Regions from separate parts of the Homo sapiens genome. Here region 2 is linked to region 1. A link means that fine-mapping ties the variant in region 1 to the expression of a gene that starts in the linked region. Tissue or cell type: whole blood. Region 1 holds a variant in brackets; the other region holds the start of a gene. All regions are shown on one strand. Distances are between the middles of the regions.

Region 1 (8,106 bases):
GGGGGAGTTAAACTTACTTAGACCTGGTAAAGGGCAGTATTTGATAAATGTCAGCTAGTTTAGGGTTAGGGAATTGAGTTGAATGGAGATAGTCACTGCCAAATGTAAAGCATGACTGGAGAGCCACAGTGATGAAGCCAGGGTCCCTTTCTCCAGATCCTTTGTAACAGTGTTATGTGATCTCTTCTAGAAGATTGTTCTGAAAGATAATGCCAACTCGGAACCTAGGAAACCATCCAGTGGGTTTCTGCAGCTTAGGTGGTTCAAATCCTCATCAGCACGTTTGTTTTCTCTGCCTCAGTTTGCTTACAGTGATGTTCTCAGTAGCTGTAATTGCTGTCTTTGAATACTTAAGCATTTTTTTTTTTAGCTCACAGGGGTATGTGTGCATTTTTCTTTTACCAAGTGTTAGAACTTTGACTCTGCTTTTGTGGGCTCTGGTTTAGCAACTTGGTTGTTTAGTTGTAAAATGATTAGTAGGGAAAACCGTGTGTGTGTGTGTGTGTGTGTGTGTGTGTGTGTGTATTTTAAGTTTCTTTTGTTCTCAGAGCACTTAGAATTTTATATGGAAATTCTATCAGTTTACTTGATTCTCCACCCCACATTTCTTAAACAGCAAAGTATGAAGGTAATGTGTCCCGTAACCAGCCTTCAGAATAATTACAGCTGCTGTGTCTCTGAACTTTCAAGAAGTTTGTGCATCAATTTTCAAAAAATTATGAAATCCTTGAAGATAGCTGTGTTCTACATTTGGAAAGATACAAAAACTGAACCTTCTAGCAGGCAGTTTTGCTTGCTGGTGCTTGCGATAGAGCCACACATTGGTCTCAGTGGATTTATGGAGAAAAATAGGTACGGAAAGTTATTTCTAAATAAGACCAAAAATCCTTTTCTTAAGCAGTGACAGGTAAAGAGGTTGTCTTGGCTAATATTGAATTGTGTTGCCCTTGATTGAGACAGTTTTATGGTGGGGATGGTAGTGGTGATAAACTTGTTTGAAATTTGTCCACCTATAGTAACCTTTGTGGTAGCTGTCACAGACAGCTTCATCCTCACAGGCCCTAAAATTACTATAAAACTAATAGATTGGAGGAGAAACAAAGGACCTGAATAATTAGATGCTTAGATAATTGTTCTGTGTTTTCATAACAAGTGAAAAAGAGCAGTGTTAGAAGTACTTAAACTTTCCATGTAAGGAGCACTGCCTGAATTTATATTGTGATTTTAGAGCATCATTCACTGTTTAAAAACAGGCATATTGTGGGTCATATTTTAAAGACAAACAGAAAGCTTATCTTTTCAAGATGGATCTAAAGCTTAACCTTATCAAAATTACAAAATGTGAAGGATATGATTGAAAAATATTAATGCATAGGTTTAAATATTGGTCATCATTTTAGATGTCTTTCAAAATAGGTTGTCTCTTAAATATTAAACTGAACAAACATTGAACTTGTTGTAGAGTTTGTGCTCAAGGTTAAGTTTCCTGGGGTGATGGATATTTGATAATATGGATAACAAAAAGTTCTTAAGAAATTTAGAAAATTTTTAGGCAAAACTAGAAAATAATACTGATAATTCTACCACTCAGAATGTACCACTATCAGAATTTTGTATCTTTCAGTCATCTGCTCATCTCTTTTCTCCTTTGCTTGTATGTGTTCCCTCTCCCTTAAAAAATCAGATTTTTTTTTTGTAATCTGCATTTTCACTCAATATTGTAGATCTGTGTCATAAGTTACTCCTCTACAGTGCCTTCAGTTATTGTGTGCTTTGTGTTGGATGACTGTACCATCTAGTCTTTCGTGTTTCCTGGTACTGACTACATAGGGGTGAGTGTGTGTGTGTGTGTGTGTGTGTGTGTGTGTGTGTGTATTTTTTTTCTACCTTAACTAATGCTTTGGACATCATCAACAGGTAGAGCTAAATCCTTGAAACCTTCCAAGTGGTGGCTTTCAGTTATTGCTGAATTGGTTTTTAGAGATGGAACAAATTATATTGTATGGAAACTTTTTTTTTTTTTTTTTTTTTGAGACAAAGTCTCAGCTTGTCACCCAGGCTGGAGGGCAATGGCATGATCTTGGCTCACTAAAACCTCCACCTCCCAGGTTCAAGTGATCCTCTTGCCTCAGCCTCCCGAGTAGTTGGGATTACAGGGGCCTGCCACCATGCCCGGCTAATGTTTGTGTTTTTACTAGAGATGGGGTTTCATCATGTTGGCCAGGCTTGTCTCGAACTCCTGACCTCAGGTGATCCACTCACCTTGGTCTCCCAAAGTACTGGGATTACAGGCATGAGCCACCATACCCAGCCTTTTTTTCTTCTAGGTACCAGCTTTTATTTATCAGATTGGTATAAATGTTAGAAAGCGTGCAATGAAATGGGCATTTTCACAGTCGTGGCAGAAAGTATAATTATCTTTGACTTTCTAGAAAGCAGTCTGGCATTCTAGAAACTTGCCTAACCTCTTCCCATTTAGACAAGATGAATTCTGACAGGGCCAGCCTTGTCCCTGTGATTCCGTATCTCCCAGAAAGAGAGGTCTAGTCTCAGGGAAAACCCAGATTTTCTTGGCTTAGCCCACCTGACAGCTAATCACTGGAAATGGGGCGGGCCGGTAGAGTCCTTTGGTCAGGTTTTGTGTCAAGAGAGGGATGTGGAAAGATGGGAGAGAGGTAGCAAAACTGGCCTCAATGGAACTATGTAAGTTAACATAGAATGGCAAAGGAATGTTTCTTCCAAGGAAGAAATTCTAGGGAAGGAATAAAGTAGAGGGGAAGGCAGCAGTTCTCAAAGTTTTGGGGTCAGGATTCCTTTACACTCTTAAAAGTATATTGAGGGCCCAAGGAGCTTTTGTGTATGTGGGTTATATCTATTGGTATTTATCACTAGAAATTAAATCAGAAATACTTAAAATATTCCTTAAAAGCTCACAAAATATTGTTATAAATGCTTTTATGATAAGAAAATTTCTAAACCCAAGGTAGTACAGTCTTACATCTTTTGCAAATTTCTTTGATGTTTGATATGTCATTTGTACCTGCATTCAATTTATTGTGTGATATTTGCTTGAAAAAATGTGAACAAAGGACAGTCTCATACAGATAGGCATTTCAGATCATTGTGGATATTTCTTTTTTCTTTCTTTCTTTTTTTTTTTTTTTTGAGATGGGGTCTTTCTCTGTCTCCCAGGCTGGAATGCAGTGCTATGATCACGGCTCACTGGAGCCTCATTCTCTGGGGACTCAGGTGATCCTCCCACCTCAGCCTCTAGAGTAGCTGGGACTACAGGTGTGTACTACCCCACCTTGCTAATTTTTTGTATTTTTTGTAGAGATAGGGTTTTGCCATAGGTATTCAAATAGAAAGTTTTGTTTTTGTTTTAGTATATAAAGAAATATAACTTTCCATGTTGGAAAAATTTTTAAAACCTTTTTTTAATTTTAAAACTCATAAGCAACCATTGTTGAGAAAATTGGTAAAGTACAGAAAAGATAAAAGAAAAAAATTAAAGTCTCCCATAATTTCTCTATCTAATATAACCACTATTGACTGTTGACATGATGGTCATTTTCTACCAGTATATATTTTTTCTTTGCTATTAAAATACATAACCCTTACACATATGCTTAATAGTTGAGGTCATATTCTCTATAGTTTTTTATATATATATATATATATATTTTTTTTTTTTTTTTTTTTTTTTTTT[TTG/G]AGACAGAGTCTTGCTCTGTCACCCAGGCTGGAGTGCAGTGCCGTGGTCTCGGCTCACTGCAAGCTCCACCTCCTGGGTTCCCACCATTCTCCTGCCTCAGCCTCCCCAGTAGCTGGGACTACAGGCGCCCGCCACCATTCCCGGCTAATTTTTTGTATTTTTTAGTAGAGATGGGGTTCCACCGTGTTAGCCAGGATGGTCTCGATCTCCTGACCTCATGGTCTGCCCACCTTGGCCTCCCAAAGTGCTGGGATTACAGGCGTGAGCCACTGTGCCTGGCCCTTTTATATTCTTTTAAAAAGTATTTACTGTATTTTCCTGTGATGTCATAGTCTTTATAGAAAAATAATCATTATTTTCAGTTGACATGATTGTTTACCTAAAAATATCCAAAGGAACCAACTGAGAAAAAACAATTTTTAAGATTACTGGTTAAAAGTTCTTTTATATAAAAATCAATAGCCTTCCCCAATGTTAGCTATAATCACATAGAAGATATAGTGATGAAGTATTTTTTCAGGTATTTCAGCAAAAATTAAATACCTAGGAATAAACTTAGATGTGCAGGACTTTTATCAAGGACAGGACAAAATTTTGCTGAGTGGAATGAAAGATTTGCATTCTATGTTCCTGGATGAGCAGATTTCATGTTATAAATATGTTAGTTATCACCATGTCTTCATATTAATTTGTAAATGTAATTTCTGCTGGGCACAGTGGCTCATACCTGTAATCCAAACAGTTTGGGAAGCTGAGGCGGGTAGATGACAATTAGCTGGGTGTCTGTGGCACACACTTGTATTTCCAACTACTTCTGAGGCTGAGGTGGGAGGAGCACTTGAGCCTGGGAGGCAGAGGTTGCAGTGAGCCGAGATCATGCCTCTGAACTCCAGCCTAGGTGACAGAGTGAGACCCTGTCTCAAAAAAAAAAAAAAAAAAAAAAAAAAAACTAGAAAAGTGTGTGTGTATATATATATATTTCATATTTTATAAATATTTATATATATAAATTGTATATATACATTTTATATTTTATATATAGTGTGTGTGTATTATATATATACACACACACACACAAATTTCAGTACAAATTCTGGCAGATTTATTTTTGACACTTGACAAAACGACTCTAAAATTTGTTTAGAAGAATAAGTAATAAAAATTAATAAAGTATAGACTCTTTCAACCAGATAGTAAATAAAATATTGTGGACTATCCCTGGGCCAGACAGATAAAGGCAATGGAAGTTTAGAACCAGAGTCATGCAAACGAGAATTTAGTATAAGGAAAAGGTGGTATTTTAACTTAATACTGAAAAGATAGATTATTCTGTAAATGGTTTTAGGAGAACTATTTGAGGAAGTCTGAGTCTTAACTCCAATTTTTGTCAAAATAAGTTAGTTGGTTTAAACACATCTATTCTTAAAAATTAGAACAGAAGAATATTGGTTTGAAGATATTTTAAGAGTTAAGGCTGAGGCTGGGCACAGTGGTTCACGCCTGTAATCCCAGCACTTTGCGAGGCCAAGGTGGGAGGATTGCTTGAGCCCAGGAGTTTGAGATCAGCCTGGGCAACATAGCAAGACTCTTTCTCTCTCTCTCTCTCTCGATATAGATATACATATAAATATACATATACAAATAGAAAAAAAAAAGAGTTAAGTTTTATATGGAGAGCCATGAAGATAAGAGGTAAAAATTAAAGGCTTGATGGACACATGTTTACATCTCCATCAAGGGGGTTGATGGGAAAGAATGATAGACATAGCTCCATTACTGCTACCTCCTTTTAGGAAGTTGCTTCTGAACATCTAAAGATATCAGTTTTATAATAGAAATGAGTTATTTTTCAGTGTCTAAAACACCACATGAGATACATACATACATGCATACATACATAAATATGTTCATAAAGTTAAATGAAATAGGATATAAAATTGGGCCTAGTGTTTAAAAGGTAAATATATTTACATGAAGGAGAAAACAACTCACCTCCCACTCTTAGAGCCTCTGCCAGTTTATCATAGCCTAGTTTCTTGAGAGAATAAGCTACATGTCTTCACCTTTTTTCACTGAGCTCATTATACTCTGGATTCTGCCTTCATCGTTGCACTAAAATTTATCTCCTAGTTGTCAAATCCAGTGGCTCCCCTCTTAGTCCCCAAATTGACCCCTCTGCAGTATTTTGATACTGTTGATTGTTCCTTTGTTGAAACATTCCTCCATTCTTAATGTCCACCAATAAAGAGTTGGTTAAATAAAAATTATAGTGTACCGTTTTATAATATTCTGTTGTTCTGTTGTGGACCAAAAAATGCAGCCAGTCTTTCCATAAGAGCACGTGCAAACTTCTAAGATATATTAAGTAAAAAAGTAAGGCATAAAATATTGTGTATAATCTGACCCCTTTAGTACACAGTGTAAAAACATCTGTGTCTGTGCTTCTTTATACTTACTTTTTTCTCCCCTGGTGAATACAGGAAACTGTGAATAGTACAACACAATTAAAAAAAAAAAAAACTGTGTGTCTGCTGCACCAGGACCTGTGATAATTGGGTATAAAAGACAAAAAAGACATGTCCCTGTCCTCTGGGAAGGGACATGATAATCAAATGAGACTTCTGTCGGATTCTTTTCTCCTGTTTTGATCTTATCACCCTTTCTTGGTCTCCTCCGATCTCTTCTTCCTTGTCCTACTTCTTCTCTTCTCATTCTGTGCTTTCTCTGAGTAATCTTTGACTCCCATTACTTAAGTCATGACCTGTGTTCCAGGGACTCCTAAATTTGTATTCATCTCCAGAGTTTCAAACCCATATATCTGTCTGTATATCATATATTTAGGGAATCTCACTTGGAGTGACATGGGTGTTCAAAATGATGATATTTAAATTTTCACGTATCCATCTCCTAGCACTCTATCTAGTCACATATGCCTAAACCTGGGAACTGTCTTAATATTCTTTTATATACACCTGTTCTGACCTCCCCCCCAAACTAGTAAATTTCTAAGACCTGTCCTTCTGAATGTCTCTTACAATTTTCCCTGTGATCTCAGTTTCTTCCTCCCATCCCTCAAATGCTTTGTGTGTGTGTGTGTGGTGGGGGAAGAGAGTAAAATTGAAATTTGTGGAAAACGTACTAGCCTGTCTGTCTGTCTTTCGAGGTGAAGTCTCCCTCTTGTCCCCCTGGCTGGAGTGCAATGGCACAATCTTGGCTTACTGCAACTTCCATCTCCTGGGTTCAAGCAATTCTCCTGCCTCAGCCTCCTGAGTAGCTGGGATTACAGGCACCTGCCACCATGCCCAGCTAATTTTTGTGTTTTTAGTAGAGATGGGGTTTCATCATGTTGGCCAGGCTGGTCTCGAACTCCTGACCTCAGGTGATCCACCCGCCTTGGCCTCCCAAATTGCTGGGATTACAGGTGTGAGCCACCATGCCTGGCCACTACCCTGTCTTGTTGCTTGGTATGACTCCACTACCCTGCTGCCTCTCTCCCCGTACAGCAGCATAATTTAGGAATCAGAGAGACTGAGGAGGATATATATTATTTAGGTGCACCGGCCCAGTCAGATTAACATCTAAAGGACTGAGCCCTGAACAAAGAGTCAGGTTACCTTTTAAGCATTTTGTGTCGGTCATTATGCCGACAAGGTGTCCGCACTAAGTTCAGTATCAGTATGGTGACCTCCTGGGAACAGGTCATCGGCTTGCCTAAGGATGGGAGAACTGGCTCAGGTCAGAAAGGGAGCAGGTCAGAATTCCTGCACCAATCGGTAGTGGGACTGTGCCTGGGCAATATAGCAAGATCTTGGTTCTTAAAATTCAAAATAAAGAACAGCTCATTCCCCTCTGGGGAGGGGCTGGCTCAAGGTTACACAGTGAGTGTGGGGGCAGAGGCGGGCCCACTGTACCTCCCTTGTTGGGTTGTCTGAGGACCCCTCTGGCCACCCCCCACAGGAGATGGAGGAGGACATCTGGACAGTGAGCAGGAGGCGCTTCGGCCCATGCCGAACATCCCAGGGGACCTGGAGAGCCGGGAGGCCATGGTGAGCCTGACTTTCCCTGCCCCTACTTTGCCACCTTCCTCTGTGGTCCCTCCGAAACCCCCTTATGTTCTTGGTTTCCCCGCCTTCTGACTTCTGTGGACTTTCTCTGCTTCTGGGAGCCAGTGGTCAGACACCATTTCACCTGTGACCAACAGGTGCACTCTGTGAGGCCCGAAAGGAAGGGGCTATGCTCCATCTGCCTGCCCCAGTTGTTATGTGTATACCCCTACAAGAATACTCACCTCTTGTCTTCAGGTGGCATTTTTCAACTCCGCTGGAGCCAATGCCCAGGAGGAACAAAGGGTGTGCTGCCAGCCCCTGGCTCACCCAGTGGCCTCGTCCCAGAAA
Region 2 (8,106 bases), 590 kb before region 1:
CCATCGTGGTCAGGCTGGTCTTAAATGGCTGACCTCATGATCCACTTGCCTCAGCCTCCCAAAGTGCTGGGATTACAGGTATGAGCCACTGTGCCCGGCCATCTTTTATTCTTTTTTAAAAAATTCATTTATTTATATATTTTTTGAGATGGAGTTTCATTCTTGTTGCCCAGGCTGGAGTGTAATGGCACAGTCTCAGCTCACTACAACCTCCACCTCCCGGGGTCATGCAATTCTCCTGCCTCAGCCTCCCAAGTAGCTGAGATTATAGGCGCCCCCCACCACGCCTGGCTAATTTTTTTGTATTTTTAGTAGACATGGGGTTTCACCATGTTGGCTAGGCTGGTCTCAAACTCCTAACCTCAGGTGATCTGCCCACCTCGGTCTCCCAAAGTGCTGCAATTACAGGCATGAGCCACTGGGCCTGGCCAGCATCTGTTATTCTTTAATATTGACAAAAACTCCCTTGACCAAACTTTTTATTCAGGCTCCTTAGGACTTTTTTCTCAACTAGGCCTCTACCTTGGCCCATATCCTGTCTTTGGCCTGCCCAACCCAGTCTTAGAAAGAATCTCCCCACCCTTAACGCATCATCTTAGTAATTTTCCACCCATTGACCCCCCTTCACTTTGTTCATTGGCTATAAATGCCCAGCTGTTGATGTTGTTTTCAGAACTGTGCCTGATCTCTCTCTCCTGTTGCAATGCTTCCACTGCAATCATCTTGAATAAAATCTTTCTTACCATTTTAACTAGTGTCAGAATAATTTTTTTCTTTCTTCTTTTTTTTTTTTTGAGATGGAGTCTTGCTCTGTTGCCCAGGCTGGAGTGCAGCGGCACGATCTTGGCTCCCTGCAACCTCTGCCTCCCAGGTTCAAACGATTCTCCTGCCTCAGCCTCCCAAGTAGCTGGGATTACAGGCGTATGTCACCACACCCGGTTAATTTTTGTATTTTTAGTAGACATGGGGTTTCACCATGTTAGCCAGGCTGGTCTCAAACCCTAACCTCAGGTGATCTGCCTGCCTTGTCCTTCCAAAGTGCTGGGATTACAGGCGTGCGCCACTGCAACAGCCCAGAATAATTTTTTTCTTTAACAATGCCTTCAAACAGTTGTTTACACACACACACACACACACACACACACACACACACTCCAGCTTGTATAGTTGTTTTTGGTGGGAGGGTTAGACAAGTTGGTACATTATGGCTGAAACTGGAAGTCTACTTACTTCTATAACAAACATGTATTATTTTAAACATTTCCTTTAAAACAATAATAACATGTTTAACGAGCTCATCTGGAACCAGTCTTCCCTGAAGGTTATTATTTTGAAAGTTTTAATGTCCTGTATAGATAATTGAATTGTCCAGGTTTTCTAGACGAGTACATTCCTTTGATATTTTCAAAGCCACTAATAGAATTACTCATATTTTTAAACTCCACAATTATGTTTATATATCCTTTCTTATGTCCAATTCTATGTTTTTTAATCTCTTTCCTTTTAAACTAGCTAGTATAGTATACTATAGAGTGTGATCTATGAAAGGCCTGCATTAGAATACCTGGGATGACACTTAAAAGTAGTAAGTGAATTAATTTTCTGAATCATCAATGGATACTGAAATCAGTAGGTGAAAGCTTTTTGGGGAAACAGACTGGTCAAACAGTCTCAGAGCATCACCCTCATGGATTACTTATTACATAAGAATCATACACCTTCATAATGGAGGGATCTGACAGTCACAGCCTCACCAGGTCATCAAGCTTAGCATCACCAACATACGCTTTCTGAAGTGAGGCAATGAAGTACTTAACATCACCAGCATATTCTTGCCTAAAATGTTTAACCTGGAATCTAACCATGAATCATACAGAATCCACCAGACAAATCCAGATTGTGGAGCATTATACTCCACAATTCCCCGGACCTTCAAAGAAGTCAACACAGTCAATAATATGTGAACATTGATTTGATCCTGGATTGGAAAAAAAGTCATCTGTGAAAGATATTTTTGGCCAGGCACAGTGGCTCATGCCTGTAATCCCAGCACTTTGGGAGGCCAAGGTGGGCAGATCATAAGGTCAGTAGATTGAGACCATCCTGGCTAACACGGTGAAACCCCGTCTCTACTAATGACAGGTGAAGCCAACTGGACTTCTGGGTAGGGTGAGGACTTGAAGAACTTTTCTGTCTTACAAGTGGTTTGTAAAATGTGCCAGTCAGTGCTCTGTAAAAACACACCAATCAGCACTCTGTGGCTAGCTAGAGGTTTGTAAAATGGACCAATCAGCACTCTGTAAAGTGGACCAATCAGCACTCTGTAAAATGGACCAATCAGCATTCCGTAAAATGGACCAATCAGCACCCTGTAAAATAGACCAATCAGCACTCTGTAAAGTGCACCAATCAGCATTCTGTAAAATGGACCAATCAGCAGGACATGGGCGGGGACAAATAAGGAAGTAAAAGCTGACTCCACCCCCCCCACCCCCGCCGGCCCCTCCCCTCCTGCCCCCACGCCCAGAGACTGCAACCACCCGTTGGGGTTCCTTTCCATGACATAAGGGCTTTGTTCTTTTGCTCTTCAGAAGAAGTCTTTGGGTCCCTGCCATCTTAAGAGCTATAAAACTCATCAGGAAGGTCCACAGCTCCATTCTTGAAGTCAGCAAGACCACGAACCCACCAGAAGGAACGAACTCTGGACACACTAAAAATACAAAAAAAAAAAAAAATCAGCAGGCTTGGTGGCAGGTGCCTGTAGTCCCAGCTACTCGGGAGGCTGAGACAGGAGAATGGCGTGAACGTGGGAGGCAGAGCTTGCAGTGAGCGGAGATCATGCCACTGCCCTCCAGCCTGGGCAACAGAGCAAGACTCCGTCTCAAAAAAAAATTTTTTTAGAGACAAGTGGAGAAACAAATATTAACTGTACATTAAATATTATACATAGGACCAGGCCTGGTGGCTCATGCCTGTAATCCCAGCACTTTGGGAGGCCGAGGCGGGTAGATCACGAGGTCAGGACTTGGAGAGGAGCCTGGCCAATATGGTGAAACCCCGTCTCTACTAAAAATACAAATAATTAGCTGGATGTGGTGACACGCACCTGTAACCCCAGCTACTCGGGAGGCTGAGGAGGAGAATCGCTTGAGCCCGGAAGGCAGACTTCATGCCATTGCACTCCAGCTTTGGCAACAGAGCGAGACTCCGTCTCAAAAAAAAAAAAATCATATATAGATGATTTGATGATATGGTTAATTTTGTTAGGTGTGATAATGGTATCATTAGTAGCATGATGTCCCTTTGTCTTTAGGAATTGCCGGCTGGCAATGGGGAAGGGGTTGTGCATCCACTATTTCAGCCCCTACTACTTTAAGTCTCTTCCCAAGCACGTTCCTCTCCCAAAGAAGTTACCATTCTAAATGCCTAACAGCTGGAAGTCCCCTCTGGTGGTTTCACAAGTGGAGTGATTTTACAGGAGAAACCCAGGTTTGGGGTTTACTATTTACTTGACGGCATTTGTAATCTGTAAGGCTCTTCCTGCAAAGAACAGGTGTTTCCAACTATACGTGCCTGGTCAAGGACTATTTCTTGGGTTTTCTACGTTCTGCTTTTGACAGCTGACTTAACTCAGGGCCTGCCTCACTGAAGGGAGAAAAAGGAAGGCCTCGGTCCCCCAATCATGATGACCGGGTTGTAAATACTGCCTGGGAAGGGATAATACAGCCTTTTCCATTGTGTGTGTGTTTTAGTTTTTAATTTTTTAAATTTCAAGCTTAGGCAGTGGTTCAGTGCAAGGACTGAAAAGCGCTACAAGAGAAGGTGGGCAAGCACGAGGGGTTTCAAATACAGGGGTGGAAGCAGTAGAAGGAAATGTCTCTTAGGCCCAGAGGACGGAACCAAAGGGTCAATTAGAAGGGAAAGGGACCTGCGGACCTGGGGAGAGGTCACTGGGGTTCTAAGCCTTCCACCTCTGCTTCCGGAATTTCCACGGGTTTCGCGGCCTTCTGGAGCGGCGACTTGGCCACGCTTGGGGTACAGGGTTGTGGGAAGTCATGTCATCCCCTCCCTCACGTGTTCCCTTGGCCATACTTTCCTGCCCCTCCACTTCCAGGCAAAACACTCCTCGGGACAGGCCTTGGGACATGTCCCAGATACACAATGGGGGCGCTGGACTTGGTGATAAGGGGCCTGCAGGAAGAAAAAGGCAGCCGTGAGAGCCGCCTGCAGATCCACGATGCATCTTAAAATTACAAATTCTCAGGCCCTACCCCAGACCTACTGAGTCAGAATACCCAGGGCACTGAGCCAGGGGGTGGGTGCCCGTAGGCCCGGCAGCACCCAGCCTGCAGAAGCTCCACCTCCGGGAGCGCTGAGCTAGGACCAGCTCCCCACGCCCCTGCCCTGGGGCTGCCGGGAGTCCAGTCCTGTTACACCTCCCGCGGCCGCGCACAGCGGCAACCCGGGCGTGCGGGGGCGCGCGCGGTCAGGGAGGGGCCTGCGGAGGCGCGAGGCCCCCGGAAGCGCCTTTCCCGGAAGGCAGGGAGGCAGCGCCGGCCTCCGGAGGCGGCCTGGGCGATGGCGGCGGAGTTTTGTCCATAACGTGGGCAACCGCGCAGCTGGAGGATGGCCTCACTCGGGCCTGCCGCAGCTGGGGAGCAGGCGTCGGGGGCTGAGGCGGAGCCGGGCCCCGCGGGGCCGCCGCCGCCGCCCTCACCGTCCTCTCTGGGGCCCCTGCTCCCCCTGCAGCGGGAACCTCTCTACAACTGGCAGGCGACCAAGGCGTCGCTGAAGGAGCGCTTCGCCTTCCTCTTCAACTCGGAGCTGCTGAGCGATGTGCGCTTCGTACTGGGCAAGGGTCGCGGCGCCGCCGCCGCTGGGGGCCCGCAGCGCATCCCCGCCCACCGCTTCGTGCTGGCGGCCGGCAGCGCCGTCTTTGACGCCATGTTCAACGGCGGCATGGCCACCACGTCGGCCGAGATCGAGCTGCCGGACGTGGAGCCCGCAGCCTTCCTGGCGCTGCTGAGGTGAGCGGCAGCGCGGGCCGGGCCGGGCCGGGCCGGGCCGGGCCGGGCCGGGCTGGGAGATCCCCGGGGCCCGGCCTACCCGGACTCCCGGATGACCTTGGGCTGGGCTCTTCTGACCCGCCCGGGGCCTCAGTTTCCTCCCGAGCCGTTGATGCTCCGGAGGGTCGAAATCGAAATCTGTGAACCAGGACGGCTCAGTCGCCAACTAAACGTTAGTGTCTTCATTAGGCAAGCGTGCGTTTTACCATTGAAAGGCGTTTCGCATTCCAATTATGGATTGTCGCTCAGACTTCAGAATTAGACAAGTGGCAAGGATAGAGGGGCAGATCAGGTTGTCCTGATTGCCCATTTGCGAAGTTTTATGTTTTTGTTTGGGGGAAGAGAGTAGTTGAAAAATCTTGCAGGACTGATGTTTTGGGGTTATTGTCACCCCCTTCCCCCCGCTTTTTTTGAGACAAGGTCTTGCTCTGTTGCCCAGGCTGGAATGCTGTAGCGCGATCATGGCTCACTGCAGCCTCGACCTCTCCGGGCTCAGGTGATGCTCCGACCTCAGCCTCCCGAGTATTTGGGACTACAGGCACGCGCCACCACGCCCGGCTAATTTTTTTTATTTTTATTTTTGGTAGAGAGAGGGTTTCACTATGTTGCCCAGGCTGGTCTCGGACTCCTGGGGTCAAGCGATCCGTCCACCTCGGCCTCCCAAAGTGCTGGGATTACAGGCGTGAACCACCGCGCCTGGCCACTTTTTTGTTTTTGTTTTTGTTTTTCATTAACGTATTAGTTGTCAAGACCCAGGAAAGTAAATACGAAAACAGACAAGTGAGGCTTTACCTGCTTTGTGTTTCTACACACAAGGTCACATTTGCTTATAAATGAATCCCTCCCTTGATGTTAGAATTTGCTTGTTGGTTATTTGAGGATAGTAGATTGACATCTAATGAAAAGGTGATTGTTTGGCATTACTAGCTTTTAATCACAGCCATCCTGTTAGGGAGGCGTAAGAATTGTTTACCCCAATTTCACAAATGGGACTGAGGCCCAGAAGAGTCAAGTATCTTGCCCAAGGTAACAAACAGCTAACTCACACTGAAGACCATGTCTGTTTCATTATACTAAGATGGTTTTAAATAGCTGCCTGAGTAGAACGTGTTGTTATTAAAATGGCAGAGTCTTGGGTAGTACTGAAGCAAAAACAGGCAGGTCAGTGGGACAGAATTAGATACAAAGGTTCACAGTTGAATCAGAAAGATGAACAAGAAAATGAATGTAAAGTTCACACAACTAGAAACAAATAATAAGATTCCATTGACGAATGGATAAAGGACAGGATAGATAACTTAGAGAAAGAAAAAATACAACTAATTAACGAATGTTTTACCTGGCTGGTAATTAGGAAGTGCAAATTAAAAGACAGTGGTATTTTTTCCTTCCATTAATCCCACCAAAAAATTTAAAGGTAACATCTGAACAGCATTTTCTGACAAAGATGGTGGTAAAAACCCTTTTGGAAAACAGTTTGGTGCTATAGATTTTCTTTCCACACGTAAGAAGCATTCAAGTATTGCAAATTGCATACAAAAATATTTACAGCTTTATTTATAGTAGTGAGGAAGTAGTCAGCTGTAGGGAATGGTTAAACAGTGGTAGGTTCACTTGATGAGATATAATGCAGTCACTAAATATGACGGATAGCACTTGAAACTGCACCATGGTTACAACGTGAAAAGACATGGAACAAACATATACCTAGAGACCGGGATAAAAGGAAACATACCAAAATGCTAAGCAAAGTCACCTGGAGTAGTGAGATGAAAGTACCTTTTTTTCTTCTTTATTCTTTGTTTCTGATATTTTCTGTAATTTAGTTCAGTTACATTTATAAAGGGGGGGGACCTCAAAAGCTAAAATCCAGGTCATTTTAGTTTAAAGTTCACCAGGAGGATTGGGTATAGTTCATTTGGATTTTCTAGACTAGAAGTAGTTTTCAAAATGATCTGTGGGCCGTCTGCATTATAATCTTCTGGGGTGCTTATGAAATGTGTAGATCTCATCCTCATTATATACCGTAATATTTGGAGGTGAGACCTTGGTAGCATTTTTAACACTCTCCCTAAGTGATACTTATACAAACTAAATTTAAGAACCACAAATCTAAAACTATTTTGGGGCAATTTTTTACTTTGAAAAAATATTGAGATTACTAGGATAAGAATGTAGAGGAAAAATACATATTTTAATATTTTCACCGAAGCTGCTAATTAGTGCTTTCCCATCAATAGAAAGTAAGTTAATTTTAGAGTGTTTGAAATGTAGGACAGTGCAATTTTTTTTTTCACATTGTAAAACATTTTTTACATTTTTAAACTTTTTTTTCATTTTTACATTTTCAGTGTGTTTTATTTTCCTAGCATTGTATTTATCCTTCAGGTTCTGGTCATTGTTCTATTTTGAAATTGATATCTGGACTGATTTCTAAATTTAATTTTGGCTGGCTGTGTAACGTAGATGTTGTTGTTAGCTAATACGTGACAAAAAGATGCCTGATAGTACTTGCTAAGTTGGAAGAGCAGGTTAGTTTGGGCATACTTGTAAACATCCTGAATTAGTTAACATTACTTACAGGCTCATGAACTTAAGTTTGAAGCCCTTAAAGAAACTGTGCACTTTGAACTGCCTGACCTTTAAATGATGTTCTTCAGTTGTTTGACAAATACTATATGCCTCCCTTTTGGGGCGCTTGTGAAACAGCGAATGGCTGTTGTAGGTGTTTGGGACACAGCAATAAACAAGAAAAAGTCCTTGCCCTCATGAAGCACATAATCTAGTAAAGGGAAACTAAAGATACAATGTCAAGTACTGATGAATGTTTTGAAGAAAAATAATCAAGTTATGAGAGAAGGAACATTCTCAGCAAGGGAACGCATTGTTTTCGGCACTAAGTATCTCCTGTTGGAGGAACACAAGAGTGAACCAGTGTGCCTTAAGCACAGTAGAGGGAAGTGGTAGAAAATGAGGTCAAAAAGATAGGCCAGACAGGATGGTGCAGGGCTTTAGAGACTGAGCGAAGACTTTTTCAGCT

The links. PIP is the estimated chance that this variant, and not a neighbour inherited with it, causes the effect.
Region 2: it holds the start of BTBD1, and the variant in region 1 is fine-mapped to the expression of BTBD1 in whole blood (INTERVAL, PIP 0.99).

Annotation. Positions count from the first base shown.
Region 1 is chr15:82,477,490-82,485,595 of GRCh38, reverse strand. It overlaps the pseudogene GOLGA2P10. Among named protein-coding and RNA genes, the nearest start is that of GOLGA6L9, 52 kb to the right of the region's middle. The variant TTG/G (reference allele first, on the strand shown) is at 3,710.
Region 2 is chr15:83,063,672-83,071,777 of GRCh38, reverse strand. It overlaps BTBD1 (BTB domain containing 1), which reads left to right and starts at 4,526. Exons shown (of 8, transcript NM_025238.4): 1 at 4,526-5,027. The coding sequence starts at 4,627. MIR4515 (microRNA 4515) reads right to left here and starts at 4,443; the gene lies at 4,363-4,443. RefSeq lists silencers at 2,393-2,442, 4,319-4,798, 5,039-5,208 and enhancers at 2,347-2,641, 4,079-4,128, 4,139-4,258.